Regions from separate parts of the Homo sapiens genome. Here region 2 is linked to region 1. Evidence: fine-mapped expression QTL. Tissue or cell type: whole blood. Region 1 holds a variant in brackets; the other region holds the start of a gene. All regions are shown on one strand. Distances are between the middles of the regions.

Region 1 (8,102 bases):
CTCCTTGAGGGGCAGGGAGAAGAGATAGACCTCCTCCAGGGACTTGATCTTCATGTCCTTGACCAGACGGCCCAGCTTGGTGACGGGCATCCACTCCTTATCCTCAGCCTTGCCTCTGAGAGCTCCATAGCCTTGGAGCTCTCATGCCCCTGGCTCCAACCCTGGCCGTGACCTCAGCCCCAGATGCCAGTGCCGAAGCCTCTGCAGAAGCTGCCACTGTTCCTCATCCCAGGGCCTCTGGGCCTCCCACTGCACTGTGTCATCTGCCATTTGGTGTTTTCTTGGAGAAGAAGCTCTGTCATCTTCTTACATGAGCAAAGTAAACATCTATGTCTCTCCCACATTGTTGGTCATGTTTTCTGTTACTTGCAGCTGAATGCATTCCTGTGCCATCAATCATGTCCACTTTAGAGATAAACAGGGCATCGAAAAAGGGGAGGTCTTCCTTTGGAGCCAGCTTCTTGTTTCTTGGAACTGGAGATTCAGGTGGAGGAGGAGAAAAGTCCCTCTGCCTGGGGGTTGAGCTGGGGATGAGGAGTGGAGTTTCCGGCAGAGAAGTCTTGGGGTAAGGCCAATACTCGCTCTTCCATGACAGAGCCTGAGGATCTTCCCTGGCCCCAGGTCCCAGGCCTTGGCTGCATGAGGAGTCACAAGATGCCTCTCCTGAACCAGGGAGTTCTCCCTAACACTGATGGGCACTGGTGGGCAGGGAAGAAGACAGCAGTAGCCATGGGTGGTGACTCAGATCACAGACCTGGCTCCAGTCCCTGCTCTGCCACGAACTGCCTGTGTGTCCCAGTGCCCCAACCAACTCCCTTAGGGCAAGGACTCTGAGCCCTCATCCGTGAATAGGACTCTCTGTGTTCACAGGGAGCCTCCTGCCCCAGGTCCCCTGGCCTCTGAGCTTCTTCTCAGAAACGTGAGTAAATCCTGGCAGGTGAGGGACCCAGGGGGAGCAATAGAGGGCTTTGTGTCACAGCCAGGAGTCAGCAAGTGCCCAGTCTGCAAGCATCCAATCTAACAGGAGAGTCCTCCAGGCATGTGGCTTCCTGAGGGCTAGGTCCAGTGGGGGTGGGGATGGGGGGGGTAGTAAGATTCTGCTGTGAGCAATGCAGAGTAAGGAAAGGATCCAAGTTCCAAGGACCGTGGCTTTGCTGCCAGCTGACCCCTTCCTCCCCACCTGCCAAATACTCCCCCAAGTCCCCCATCACCCCATTGCTTCCTGCTTTCCGCTGATGGGGCAGTCAGCATGGAGGCCAGGCTTGGCACCGCAGGAGGGATTCCGGAGCGCTGGTAGTCCTGCACGCTGGAAAGGCTTTTCTCAGGAGTCTTCCCTGGCTCCCTGGGAGGCTGAGCTGCAGGGAAATGCCCAGTGTGCACCCCGCCCGCCAGCTTTCCTGGAACCTTCTGTAGAGTGAGCCAAGAAAGAATCTGCCCACAGGGCCCTGGGGCTATAAATTCTCTCTTTTCCCTGCTCCTGGAGATGAACCAGGAAGAAAGCTCATGCCTCTTCCCTGGGTGGATGCTCTCAATAACAATAACAAGGCCCAGTGTGGTGGCCCATGGCTGTAATCCCATCACTTTGGGAGGCTGAGGCAAGCGGATGGCTTGAGCACAGGAGTTTGAGACTAGTCTGGCTCTACAAGAAATACAAAGAAAATTAGCCAGGCGTGGTGGCATGCGCTTGTGGTCCCAGCTACTCAGGAGGCTGAGGAGTTCGAACCAGAGCAACTCCATCTTGAATAGGGGCTGGGTAAAATAAGGCTGAGACCTACTGGGCTGCATTCCCAGGAAGTTAGCCATTCTAAGTCACAGGATGAGATAGGACGTCAGCACAAGATACAGGTCACACAGACCTTGCTGATAAAATGGGTTGTAGTAAAGAAGCCAGCCAAATCCCAACATAACCAAGATGGCAACAAAGTGACCTCTGGTCATCCTCGCAGCTCATTATACGCTAATTATAATCATTAGCAGGCTAAAAGACATCCCACCAACGCCATGACAGTTTACAAATGCCATGGCAATATCAGGAAGTTATACTATACCTACACTGTCTTAAAGTATACCCTATACTGTCTTAAAAGGGGAAGAACCCTCAGTGCTGGAAATTGTCCACCTCTTTCCCGGAAAACTCCCGGAAAAGAAGTAATAGGCCGGGTGTGGTGGCTCAGGCCCGTAATCCCAGCACTTTGGGAGGCCGAGGCAAGCAGATCACGAGGTCAGGAGATCGATACCATCCTGGCTAACACGGTAAAACCCCATCTCTACTAAAAATACAAAAATGAGCCGGGCGTGGTGGCACACGTCTGTAGTCCCAGCTACTCGGGAGGCTGAGGCAGGAGAATCGCTTGAACCCGGGAAGCGGAGGTTACAGTGAGCTGAGATCAAGCCATTGCACTCCAGCCTGGGTGACAGAGTAAAAATAATTAACTATAAGTATTATCAGTCGAGCAGCCCAAGCTGCTTCTCTGTCTATAGAGTAGCCATTCTTTAATCCTTTACTTTCTTAATAAACTTGTTTTCAATATACTCTATGGACTGGCACGGTCCAAGAACCCTTTCTAGGGGTCTGGATTGGGACCCCTTTCCAGTAACACAAACATGTTTTTTCCACTGTACAGCATTTAAAACCAAAGATATTGCTTCCAATAGATACTCTCACAATCCATTTTAGTGAAGGTTCCTCAGGGAGCTGATGACACAAATCTACAGAGTGCGGGTTTGTAGATTTGATGATCTACATAATGGAACAGTGCTTCACACTGTGCTCTCTGGTGTTAGTAGTTAGTTGGTTTTGCCTTCCCTGACATTGGCTACCTTCTTGGTAACCACAGGTCTCAGAGATATATCTGTTGCCCTGGCATAATTTTTCACTGAACTCCACAGGGAGAGGGTCTATGAGGCATGTCTGGCCTTCCTTCCTGTCCTGGTCAGGAATTCAGGTTTTCAGGTTTTTCTGGGGTCACCTTGGCCAAGAGGGTCTATTCAGTTGGTTGGGGGCTTAAGATTTTATTTTTGGTTTATAAATCTAACAAGCACGGCTGGGCGTGGTGGCTCACACCTATAATCCCAGCACTTTGGGAGGCTGAGGAGGGTGGATCACCTGAGGTCGGGAGTTGAAAACCAGTCTGACCAACATGGAGAAACCCCGTCTCTACTAAAAATACAAAATTAGCCAGGCGTGGTGGCGTGTGCCTGTAATGCCAGCTACTGGGGTGGCTGAGGCAGGAGAATCGCTTGAACCCAGGAGGCGGAAGTTGCAGTGAGCCGAGATGGCGCCATTGCACTCCAGCCTGGGCTACAAGAGTGAAACTCCATCTGGAAACAAACAAACAAAAACCCTAATAACCACAATAAACATATAATCCCTTGGTTGTTGCCATCTGTGATAGTTAAAACGAAAGTGAAAGGAAGTGCTGGACCCTGAGGCTGGACCATGCTCAGATGTGGGTCTGCCTGAACTCAGGTCACTAGTCTCAAAATGACTGCTGGCTGCCCTTTCTTATCACTGTGCAATGGACGGCTCTCAGTTAACAATGACTCTAAGCCACTGGCATTTTCAGGGCATCTCCGTAGTCACATGGTGGTCTACAAGCATATAAAAGGTGAACCACACCACTCCACATAAAAGCAACGGACCAGCCGGGCACAGTGGCTCATGTCTGAAATTCCAGCACGTTGAGAGGCCAAGGTGGGATGATCCCTTGAGCCTGGGAGCTCAAGACCAGCCTGGGGAACATAGTGAGATTCCCGTCTCTACAAAAAATTAAAAAAATTAGCACCTGTGGTACAAGTGGTGGATCAGTTGAGCCCAGGAGAGCAAGGCTGCAGTGAGCTATGATGGCGCCATTGCATTCCAGTCCGGGCAACAGAGTGAAACCCTGTCTTAAAAAAAAAAAGAAAAAGAAAGAAAGTGATTGACCACCCTGAGATTTCCTGTGGGTGGCAAGCCACCCAGGCGCTGAGGCAAGAGACCGAGGACACGAGCTGTTCCAGTATAATAAAATATAAAACAAGAATAGTTATACCAGATATAGATCTTAGATATGATTATATATGATTATCATTAATCATTAATTTGTAGCAATTACTCTTTATTCCAATATTATAATAATCCTCGCTCTATAATCATAACCTAGGAAAAACCAGGCCATACAGAGATAGGAGCTGAGGGGACATAGTGAGGTGTGAACAGAAGACAAGAGTGTGAGCCTTCTGTTATGTCCAGACAGGGCCACCAGAAGGGCTCCTTGGTCTAGCGGTGATGCCAGCGTCTGGGAAGACACCCGTTGCCAGGCGGACCGTGGTCTAGCGGTAGCGAAAAGTGTCAAGGAACAACACCCGCTACTTAGCAGACTGGGAAAGGGAGTCTCCTTTTCCCTGGGGGAGTTTAGAGAAGACTCTGCTCCTCCACCTCTTGTGGAGGGCCTGACATCAGTCAGGACTGCCTGCAGTTATCTGGAGGCCTAACCGTCTCCCTGTGATGCTGTGCTTCAGTGGTCACGCTCCTAGTCTGCCTTCATGTTCCATCCTGTACACCTGGCTCTGCCTTCTAGATAACAGTAGAAAATTAGTGAAAGTACTAAAAGTCTCTAATATGCAGAAATAATGGCATAAGCTGTCTTTCTCTTTGTCTCCTCTCTCTCTCTCTGCCTCAGCTGCCAGGCAGGGAAGGGCCCCCTGTCCAGTGGACACGTGA[C/A]CCACGTGACCTTACCTATCATTGGAGATGACTCACACTCTTTACCCTGCCCCTTTTGCTTTGTATCCAATAAATAACAGCACAGCCAGACATTCAGGGCTACTACCGGTCTCCGTGAATTGGTGGTAGTGGTCCCCGGGGCCCAGCTGTCTTTTCTTTTATCTTTTTGTCTTGTGTCTTTATTTCTATACTCTCTCGTCGCCACACACAGGGAGAAGCCCACCGACCCTGTGGGGCTGGACCCTACAATTTCCCAGACGGATGATTCATTCCCTTCACCCATTTCTTGATCTCTCAGCTCCTGGCCCAGCTGGCTTGCCACATGCTCTGTGGGGGGCAGGCCTTTGCAAACCTATCCCCAGAGTCTAAGGAAGCTGAAAGGCCAAAGAAAGAGGCTGACCAATCTAGTTTCTTAGAAAGAAACGTTTAATAGGAACTTAGAAGCCATGTCTGAGTCTCGGACAGCAGCAAGACAAGATGGTGGACTGCCGCCATTATTCCTTTGCTTTTTTTTCTTTTTTTGAGACAGGCTCTCACTCTGTCACCCAGGCTGGAATGCAGTGGTGCCATCATTGTTGTTCACTGCAGCCTCAATCTCCTGGGCTCAAGTGATCCTCCCACCTCAGCCTCCTAAGCGGTTGGGACTACAGGCATGCATTATGACACTCAGCTAATTATTTTATTTTTTGAAGAAATGGGGTCTCACTTTGTTGCAGTGCCTGGTCTCGAATTCCCGGGCTCAAGTGATCCTCCCACCTCGGCCTCCCAAAGTGCTGGGATTATAGCTGGGATTATAGGCGTGAGCCATATCATGACTGGCTGATATGATTTCTTAAAGCGGGAGCCAGACGTCCAGGGAGGACATCTCTTTGACCCAGGATGGCAGAGCTGGCCTTCCTGAGTCCTGGATCCCCACTCCTATGCTTGTACTAAGTCCAGTCAGCTCTCTCTAACTTCAGCAGGAAGTAAAGATGCAAAAGCCTCGAGGCACCAAGAGCCCTGCCCTGCATGGTATCAGCACCCTATCACCGTGGCCTGGGGTCTAACTGCCTAGGCTTCCTCTTCTGGGACTTGCCAATTAAAAGGCTGATTTTCCAGAAGGTTGACACCCGAGGTTTTTTTTGTTTTTTTGTTTTTTTTTGAGACGGAGTTTCGCTCTTGTTGCTCTTGTTGCCCAGGCTGGAGTGCAATGGCGATCTCGGCTCAGTGCGATCTCGGCTCAGTGCGATCTCGGCTAACCACAACCTCCACCTCCCAGGTTCAAGCAATTCTCCTGCCTTAGCCTCCCAAGTAGCTAGGATTACATGCATGAGCCACCACGCCCGGCTAGACACCCAAGGGTTCTAATCCCTCACCCTATCCCCTCAAGTTCCTTGTTCTGCTGCCTAGAGGTCACAGTGGCTTCTGACCTCCAAGCCAATTCAGCAGCTGTTGGCTGGGCACTTGCTCTGCAATAGTGCTGGGTTCTGGAGGGGACAGACTATGTCCTTTTGGCAATGCCATGCCCTACTCTTCTTAGAAGCTTACAGTTTATTAGGAGAAACTACAGCATGCACCCAGCCAGCCACAGGACAGGCAGCAAGTGATTGTAGCAGGAGGAATCTGAGAAGGCATGTCTAACTGATTCATTCACTTACAGCCCCAAACTTATTTCCCATCTGCCCACGTCGATTCTAAACCCTGAAAATGTAGTCCTTTGTCTTTAAGGAGCAAAGAGTCTTCCTAGAGAGACAGAAACACGAATAAAAAATGTACTAGCGGCCGGGCGCGGTGGCTCACACCTGTAATCCCAGCACTTTGGGAGGCCGAGGCAGGTGGATCACCTGAGGTCAGGAGTTCGAGACCAGCCTGGCCAACATGATGAAACCCCATCTCTACTAAAAACACAAAAATTAGCCAGGCATGGTGGCGCCTGCTTGTAATCCCAACTACTCAGGAACCTGAGGCAGGAGAATCGCTTGAACTTGGGAGGCGGAGGTTGCAGTGAGCTGAGATCTTGCCACTGTAGTGAGATTCTGTCTCAAAAAAAAAAAAAAAAAAAAGTACTAGCCATGTCAGGAGTGTTGGTAAGCAGGAGCTTCCTGGAGGGGGAGGGACATGGGACTAGAAAGGAAGGAGAAGTGATATTGCATAGACCTAGCTCCAGTTCCAATATGGCCTTGGGATTCAAGGTCAGAGAAAAGAGAAGGGGGAAGAAAGGGCAGATTGACACAATGTTATTCAAACCTGAGAAAGAGGTAAGAGAGGAGAAGAGATGAAAGCTAGAGACAAAAGGGAAGTGTGAGGGGAAACATGAGGGTAATGAACAGTAACCAAGATGAGGTCAAAAGAAGATGATCAAGCAGAAAGAAAAGCATCTGAGAATAATGGGGCCTGTGGCCAAGAACAAAGGCCCCAAAGCCAGCACAGTCTCCTGGGAAGCAGTCATGCTTTCAGCCCCCAGGACTGGGTTACCCAAAGGGGACTGAGAACTCCTGCCAAACACAGTGACAAGCACCCTGCCATCTGGCTGGGCCAAGAAATAGGGCTCTATGGCTATCCAAATAGTCACTTAATGAAGACTTTTGACTTAATGAATTAGTGGGCTTTCTTAAACAAGTGACATGTTCAGGGACTTTGACTCCAGCAGGGATGTGCAGTCGCCAGGCCACTGAGACCACTGCAGGTGTTCGCCAAGGCAATTCTGGACTTTGGAGTGTCCTGGTTAAAAATAAAATGGTCAGAGCCTACTTTAGTTGTCTGTATTTCACTGTTTTTTTTTTCTTTCTGAGACAGAGTCTCACCCTGTCACCCAGGCTGGAGTACAGTGGTGCAATCTTGGCTCACTGCAACCTCCGCCTCCTGGATTCAAGTGAGACTCCTGCCTCAGCCTCCCAAGTAGCTGGGATTACAGGCACATGCCACCACGCCTGGCTAATTTTTGTATTTTTAGTAGAGACAGAGTTTTGCCATGTTGGCCAGGCTGGTCTTGAACTCCTGACCTCAAGTCATCCACTTGCCTTAGTCTCCCAAAGTGCTGGGATTACAGACGTGAGCCACTGCACCTGTATTTCACAGTTTCTGAAAGCCATATTTTATCTGGGCCAGAGTGACAAGGGACAGTAGGACACCCTGGTTAAAGTGCAGTCTCTGTGCTTGGGCAGCCTGGGTTTATATCCCTACTCTGTTACTTACTAATGGTGAGAACCTTAGCCTCTATATTATACTCCACGAAATGAGTACAATAATATTACCCACCTCATAGAGTTGTGGATATTAAATGAGTGAAATACATGCTAAGTGCTTAGAATAGTGCCTGGCACATAGAAAGTGCTCTCTCCATGTTAGTAATTGTGACTTATTAGAATTCATAAGCATGGCTGGGTGCGGTGGCTCACACCTGTAATCCCAGCACTTTGGG
Region 2 (8,102 bases), 49 kb before region 1:
GGTGTCCAGCGCCCTTAGGTCATTTTCTCACTGCCTGGGAACCTCACCAAAATACTTCTTGCTTCCTTGGGGTCAGCCCAAAGCTGTCACAAAATCAGATATTTCCCTTTATTCCAGATTTCCTGGACACTTTCACCCAATTATAAACACCCCACTTCAGCCCCAATCACGTGGGAGGAAGTGTAACTTCCCTTTTCTGGATTCTCAAGCAGTTACTTTCACGGTCAGAACACGCAGCTATTATGATTGAAAACTTAAAAGGGCAACAATTTCAGTCTTGCTTCTAGGGCTAGACAGGAACTTGGCAAACATCTGTGGCCTGTTCAGCAAAGGATGTTAATATTTAAGAATCTTGTCTTGGGCTGGGTGTGGAGGCAAGTGGATCACAGGAGGTCAGGAGTTTGAGACCAACCTGGCCAACATGATGAAACCCCATCTCTACCAAAAAAAATACAAATCAGCTGGGCGTCGTGGTGTGCCTGTAGTCCCAACGCAGGAGGTTGAGGGGAGAATTGCTTGAACCCAGGAGGTGGTGGTTGCAGTGAGATTGAGCAACTGCAATCCAGCCTGGGCGACGGAGTGAGACTGTCTCAAAAAAAAAAAAAAAAGGATCGTCTCAACCTTTGCCCTCCTACTGCAACATTTTGGTATTTGAAATGAAGGGACCTTCCATACTTATGCTGTTAATACTTTCATTCTCACTAGGGATGAAGCACATTCCTAACCTGCTTCCTAATGGGGATGCTTCGCCAGCCAGGTCCTCACCTGTGTGTACACCAGCAGGACACTGATCCAGTCACAGCCATACAGCTGTCCACACTGAAGAACATGTCCTACAACAGCCTGAATCAAATGGTTAGCTTAATAGATAAAAATCCCAGACTACTTCAGCCTTTAATGCCTTTTATTCATAAAAACTGTGAAAGCTAGACTGAACCATTGGAAACATTTAACTCAGACTCTGGATTCAGAGTCGGGAACCCTTAGTTCTATCTGAATCCAAGACAGCCACACCTTAGTATACTGCCCAAACTAATGAGTTTAATAAATACAAATACTCGTTTCTTTTTGATTAGTGTGATTAGAACTGAACAACGGCACTTAAGGAATCTGGAAGATAGCCTGGATAGATTTCTGATTCATCCCAAGACCTCAAAGACAACACCTGGGTACCAAATTTCTTTATTTGAAGGAATGGTACAAATCAAAGAACTTAAGTGGATGTTTTGGTACAACTTATAGAAAAGGTAAAGGAAACCCCAACATGCATGCACTGCCTTGGTGACCAGGGAAGTCACCCCACGGCTATGGGGAAATTAGCCCGAGGCTTAGCTTTCATTATCACTGTCTCCCAGGGTGTGCTTGTCAAAGAGATATTCCGCCAAGCCAGATTCGGGCGCTCCCATCTTGCGCAAGTTGGTCACGTGGTCACCCAATTCTTTGATGGCTTTCACCTGCTCATTCAGGTAATGTGTCTCAATGAAGTCACACAACTGCAAAACAATGGGGAAGACAGTTAGTGGGCAGCTTTCCCAATCCCTAAGGCAAATGATTTCCTCCATTTATTTCCTGGGGTTCCAATACTCACATGGGGGTCATTTTTGTCAGTGGCCAGTTTGTGCAGTTCCAGTAGTGACTGATTCACATTTTTTTCCAAATGTAATGCACACTCCATTGCATTCAGCCCGCTCTCCCAGTCATCACAGTCTGGTTTCTGAATGAGAATAGGTTAATGCATCTCTACCAACTAACCTAGAAGTCAGCAAGCCCATCATCTCTAACCACCACGTTTTGGCAAAAGGGACATTACTATTTGCCTAATTTAGTTTAGATGGTAAGCCTAAAAAAGCACAAAAGGCAAAAGCCCAGTGTATCATCACTTTATAAGGGCAATTGCTAGTTTAAGTGATTTCTGATACCCGAACACTGCCAGATGATGAAGTATGACACCCCTAGGATCTTTTGTTCACCTTGATATCCTGAAGGAAGATTCGGCCACCTCGTTGGTTCTGCAGCTTCATCAGTTTCTCAGCATGTTCCCTCTCCTCATGAGATTGGTGAAGAAAGTATTTGGCAAAGTTCTTCAAAGCCACATCATCGCGGTCAAAGTAGTAAGACTGAAAGGGGAACACTGAATGTGTTATACTAGGGATCCCCAGAGACAGGTAGCTGTGACGATCTACAGGGAGGCAAGATGGTCTCGTCAGCCTAGGCTTCCTTTCTCAAAGCACAGCATGAAGGAATCAGTGCCTAAGGAGACTGGGGGGCAGATGAGCTACTGGATTGAACCCAAGAGTAATGTTTCTATTCTAAAATAGAAAACTGAAACTTGATCCTTGAAACTTAACTTCAAGGAACCTTTAGGATATTATGGGCATTGCCTGGGGCAATGTCTTAAGGATCTGTATTACTGCACAGAAAACTTACAGCCAGTGTCAGAATTCATTGTCTGATGAGAGGGCGCTGGAGTACTGACCCTGCACTTAGTCCTTTTCTCCTCCCTGCTCCTGTATTAACCATGTTAAAGCATGGTTAAAACTGAGCTCAGGAGTCTGCCAGCTGTACCACATATTTATTTATAAAATTAAAAACCCCTGCTGGGTGCGGTGGCTCAGCCTGTAATCCCAGCACTTTGGGAGGCCGAGGCAGGCGGATCACGAGGTCAGCAGATCGAGACCATCCTGGTCAACATGGTGAAACCCCGTCTCTACTAAAAATAAAAAAAAATAGCTGGGCGTGGTGGCGTGCGCCTGTAATTCCAGCTACTCAGGAGCCTGAGGTAAGAGAATCACTTGAACCCAGGAGGCGGAGGCTGCAGTGAGCCGAGATCGCGCCACTGCACTCCAGCCTGGGCGACAGAGCGAGACTCTGTCTCTCACACACACACACAAATTAAAAACCCCCATGCAAGGTGGCAAATGTGGACAGTATGTTGATGTAAACATACTTTTATAATAGTTATATCACAAAAATTTGATTTTCAGTTTTAGACATTTGATGTAGTCAAGTGTTTGTGAAAGGCAGTGACAGTCACAGAAATACAGGCCTGTTTTCAAATCCATTTGGAACACATTTATTCTTGGGATAGTTTGGACAATCACAAGGCAATTCTAAGGAAGACTCCCACGACACTGCCTAAGACCAAGATTTGGGAAAACTGATTCCACTGATCACTGAAAAATTTCTTGCCCAGTAACTGTCGGTGGACTTTATCCAAGAACTGGGGGTTCAATTAGTAGGCCAAACTCCACACCTCTTACAGTAAGATACATAAAAGATAAATTAGGTCCCCTAGGCGCAAGGTCAGGTGACACTTCGGTGACTGCAGAAGGGGCGATTCCTAGAGATATGCTTCAAAGCAAGTGGGACTTAGAGATAAGCAGAGCCGAGAGGTGGATACGGCTGCTCGAGAGGGATCTACCCACAAGATAAGCCACCTCCCGCCAGCCCCCAAGGTTTGCTATTCGACACCGTTACCCAGCAGCTCCGCCACACACAGGCGGACGGGAGCTGGATACCTAAGCAAAAAACGCTGGCATTTAGGGCCAAATGCCGGAGGCAGAGGAAAAGATGGGAAAGCAAAACTCCACCTTCCTAACCGCAGGATTGATCACACAGGCTGGCAGTCTTGCAACCCCAGGATTTCAGGACACCAAGGTCTCCTTAAAAAAGAAGGGTGTGCAGAGGCGGCCCTGGCCTAGGAGGGAGCATTCTCAGGGTACAGCCGAGAAGAACCAGCTGCCCCGACTTTCTGCGCCAGAGAAGTCCTCGGAAACCTCGAGCAGCCTCCATTTTCCAGAAGGGCGCAGGGAGGCGGGAGAGCCCGCGGGTGGCCACACCCCCGGCCCGCCCCAGCGCGCGCCCCGGGAACCGCGCCCGGCCCCCGCCACCGCTTAGGCCCGCCCGCGCTCACCATGGACAGGTAAACGTAGGAGGCGTAGAGCTCCAGGTTGATCTGGCGGTTGATGGCGGCCTCTGAGTCCTGGTGGTAGTTCTGGCGCACCTGCGAGGTGGACGCGGTCGTCATGGCGGCGACTAAGGAGAGGCGGCGGCGGCGGCGGTGGCTGCGCGGCGCTGGAGCGGCGGCGGGGGCCTTGGGGCAGTCCGAGGGTGCGGTGAAGAGGTGACGGAGGGCTGGCTATGGGCGGCCGGCCGGGGTGGGGAACGAGCGCCGGGTTCCGTCCAAGCACTGTTGAAGCAGGAAACCCCGACGACTCTCGGCGAAGAACGTCTGGCCCTGCGGGTCGCTTGTGGTCTCTTATAGCCGCGTCGGCGTCAGGCCCGCCCCGGCCAATCAGCGCCGCCCGCCCCGAGCCCGCTCCTTCCGGTGGGCGCGGGACCCCGCCCCTGCTGTGGGGGAGGGGCGGCCGCTGGAGGCCCTCGCGCGCTCTGGCGGAGCTCGGGAGCGGGGACCGGTAGCCGACTGCCTCTGGGACAGCGGTGGCGTCTCTGTGCCCGTTTAGTGGAGTTGGAGGGAAGCTGCGAGGAGGCGCAGGAAGTCCACCTCAGAACCCCCCCCCCGGTCTAGGGGCGCCCGGGCGTTGGAACCGGCGGGGGAAGGGTGCGGGGGCGCATGGGGTGATCCTGATTCGGCTCCCATTTTCCCGAACGGGCACCCTGAGGCTCCTGGCCCGGGGCATGGTGTTAGAAATCATAGCTGCGGAGAAGCCCTTGTGACACCTTGCTGCAGATTGGGAAGCTGCAGATGATTGGGAAGGTGGAAGGTGGAGACGCGGTCCTTAGGTGGTCGAGCGCATTTTCTCTTCCTCAGAGTCCAGGAAGGAGCGCGATGGAGAAGTGGGGCGCACGGCGGGTTTCGGGTCCGCCCCTGCCCTTCCGACTCCTCCGACCACGTCTGCCTTTGGCTGAAAGCAAATATGGCTCCGTGTGCGGTTTCTGCAACAAAGGCTGGGCGGGCCGGGTTTCCCTAGGGATGGGGACCGCCTCCCCGGGGAGTCGTGGGGGTGAGCCACCGGGGCCTCCGAGAGAATCGCTGGTGTCGCTTCGCACCCAAGGGACACATCTCGGGTTAGAAAGGAGAAACGACGTGGATCTAAAGGCGAAGCCCATGCTGAGGACTTTTCAAAATGGCCTCTTATCGGCCCCACTCACAGGAGCTTCAGGCTTCGGTGGCCCTGTAGGACAACCCTGGGGTGTCATTGGAGAGAAGCTGACGGGGTTAATGGCGGGTGACAGGTGAAAGAGACCCCGGAGGGGTGGGGCCGGTGTGTGTGGCTAAGCTGAGTCCCAGGCACAGGGTGGATGTGAATTTATGGGTGGCAGAGCTAGAGCTAGGCCCTGCCCTTACCTAGGTCCTGGCTTCGAGGTCCACTGTTCTGTCGCGTCTTTTGACGCATCGGTGGAAGAACTGAATTTCAGGATGCTCACAAACCTGCAGCTGGAAGCTAGACTTCCAAACCTTAGTTTAAAAAAGCAACTCTACTGAAATACTAAAATAAATTGCCGACGGAATTAGGGTGATTTCTTGTTCACGGTTTCATTTAAAAATGCACCTATGTTATTTACAGGAAAAACGTTTTAGTGGTGCTAGAGCTACAAGAATAAGGTAAACAGAAGGATGCTGCTAGACCAGGAGTACCTTACCCAGTCTGGGATAGGAGGAGGTCGGGGAAGCCCTCCCTAAGCAAGACACGTGAGCTGAGTTTGAAGAAAAAGTTAAAAGGAAGGTGAAGTGCGGGAGAGAAACAGGGAAGGGAATTTGGAGCAGAGTGAACAGCATATGCAAAGGTGTGGAAATGTGGAAATGCATGGCCTGTTAAAGCTGCCTTAAGAAAATATGTTGCCTGGGGCTGGGCGCGGTGGCTCATGCCTGTAATCCCAGCATTTTGGGAGGCCGAGGCGGGCGGATCACTTGAGGTCGGAGTTGGAGATCAGCCTGGCTAACTAACATGGCTAAACCCTTCTCTACTGAAAATACAAAAATTAGCCGGGCGTGGTGGCATGCGCCTGTAATCCTAGCTATTCTGGAGGCTGAGGCAGGAGAATCGCTTGAACCTGGGAGGCGGAGGTTGCAGTGAGCCGAGATCGCGCCTTTGCACTCCAGCCTGGAAGACAAAACAAAACTCCGTCTCAAAAAAAAAAAAAAAAAAGAAAGAAAGAAAGAATGTTGGCCTGGAAAGTACAGTTTATGTTGGGGGATGCTGGTTAGGGTGGAGAATAGGGGCAAGATCGGGCAGGGTTGTGTTCCATAAAAAGAGGTTAAACTTGATCCTAGAGACAGCATAGAGACACCTCATTAGCTTTGTTTTTAGAAACCTTACACTGGGAATCTCTTAGGATAAGAGTATAGCAAAGTCACCATATATAGGATCCAAAGCTTTCCTTTATAACAGTAACCACCAGTTAGAAAATATGGGGAAAAAAGAATGGAAAAAAAAATGTTTTTCACTTACATTGACAACAAAAGCTTAAAGTACCTTGGAATAAAGTTAACAAGAAATATATAGAAAAAACTATAAATGCTTACTGCTGGACAAAAAATTCAAAAAGCCTAGCATAAATGAAGAGGTACCATATTCCCAAATGGTCGGTCAATCTTCATTCTGTAAAGATGTCAGTTTCCCCAAATAAGCATAAATTCACTGCAATTTCCATAAGAGGCAGTTTTTTGTTTTTGTTTTTCCTCAGCCATTACTGTCTCTGGGACAGTATTTTTTTTTTTTTTGAAACTTCACAAAATGATTCTAAAGTTCATTTGGAGGAGTCAGTGTGTTGATAGATTTGCATTTGGTGCTATAATAAAGGTACAGTAAAGTGCTATAAGCAGTATGGTACTGGCACAGGAAGAGATGACTAGATTAATGCAACAAAATAGTCCTGCCCCCCTATTATGAGAACTTGGTATATGCTAAACTGTTGTGTCACATTAGGGAAGAAAGAATGGGTTTAACAAATTATGTTGAAACAATTGACAGTCATGTGGAGAAAAGTGACTCACTCAGTATTTAAAAATACATTCCAGATAGATTAAAAATCCAAGCCTTAAAAAAAGTATAAAGTTTTGAGAAGAATATATACAAGATTATTTTTATAATTTTGGGGTAGGGAATGTTCTTCTGAGGCTGTCAGAAGCCGTAAAAGTACAGTTGGCAGGTTTGCCTATTTAAAAATGAAAAGCTGTAAGACAAAAGATGTTGTAAACAAGGTTAAAACAGAGATGACAAATTGGGATGATATTTGTAGCTCATGTAAGTGATGAAGATTAGGAACTATAATATATATTTGTATGTTTAATGAAGTACTATGTATGTGTCACACCTTTTTTTTTGAGATGGAGTTTTGCCCTTGTTGCCCAGGCTGGAGTGCAGTGGCTTGATCTCGGCTCACTGCAACCTCCACCTCCCGGGTTCAAGAGATCCTCCTGCCACAGCCTCCCAAGTAGCTGGGACTACAGGTGCCTACCACCACACCTGGCTGATTTTTGTGTTTTTAATAGAGACGGGGTTTCACCATGTTGGCCAGGCTGGTCTCGAACTCCTGACCTCAAGTGATCCACCTGCCTCGGCCTCCCAAAGTGCTGGGATTACAGGCATGACCCACCGCACCTGGCCTTATGAGACCCTTTTGATTGCCTGCGCTGGTGCTGTAGATGGTAAGCTCCTGGAAGGCAGGCATTGTTTCTGTCTTGTCTCTGCACTCCCAGCTTTTTGCAAATTGCTTGTTACTTGGTGCCCAGTATCTGTTGCATGAACAGATGGATTCATGATTGAATGTGGAGGATGGATGAGAGTGAGGCTAGAGGGCTGGGCACCAGTCAGGAGGCAGCAGCCTTAGTTATTAGTGAGCAGAGAAGATAGAACACAGATTTGACAGATCTGGAGAAGATCAAATGAACAGACTGATTGGCGAAAGTCGGGGGCCAGGGGTGGGCAGTGTGTAAGAGATCTCTCAGCTTTATGATTTGGTAGGCCTGGCTGCTGCTGCCATTCCCTGAGCCAAGGAGCACAGGAGGAAATGAAGGTTTCGGGGAAAGCCCTTGGGGAAGGCCTGCTTGGTTTTGGACTAGATGTGCTGAGTTTCCAGGCTTCCGGGATGTCCAGGGGGACAAAGCCAGCATGAAGCTCTCGGACCCACTGGAGGGA

What was found. PIP is the estimated chance that this variant, and not a neighbour inherited with it, causes the effect.
Region 2: it holds the start of FTH1, and the variant in region 1 is fine-mapped to the expression of FTH1 in whole blood (TOPMed, PIP 0.93).

The regions. Positions count from the first base shown.
Region 1 is chr11:62,012,356-62,020,457 of GRCh38, forward strand. It overlaps the pseudogene RPS2P37. Among named protein-coding and RNA genes, the nearest start is that of FTH1, 49 kb to the left of the region's middle. RefSeq lists an enhancer at 1,066-1,566. The variant C/A (reference allele first, on the strand shown) is at 4,703.
Region 2 is chr11:61,963,399-61,971,500 of GRCh38, forward strand. FTH1 (ferritin heavy chain 1) reads right to left here and starts at 4,236. Exons shown (of 4, transcript NM_002032.3): 1 at 3,914-4,236; 2 at 1,971-2,117; 3 at 1,589-1,714; 4 at 887-1,493. The coding sequence starts at 4,027. The coding sequence ends at 1,329. BEST1 (bestrophin 1) reads left to right here. Exons shown (of 11, transcript NM_004183.4): 11 at 706-1,063. The coding sequence ends at 724. It overlaps LOC399900 (a long non-coding RNA gene), which reads left to right and starts at 3,896. Exons shown (of 1, transcript NR_187560.1): 1 at 3,896-5,481. RefSeq lists enhancers at 2,242-2,471, 5,103-5,172, 5,293-5,342 and silencers at 3,763-3,962, 4,233-4,582.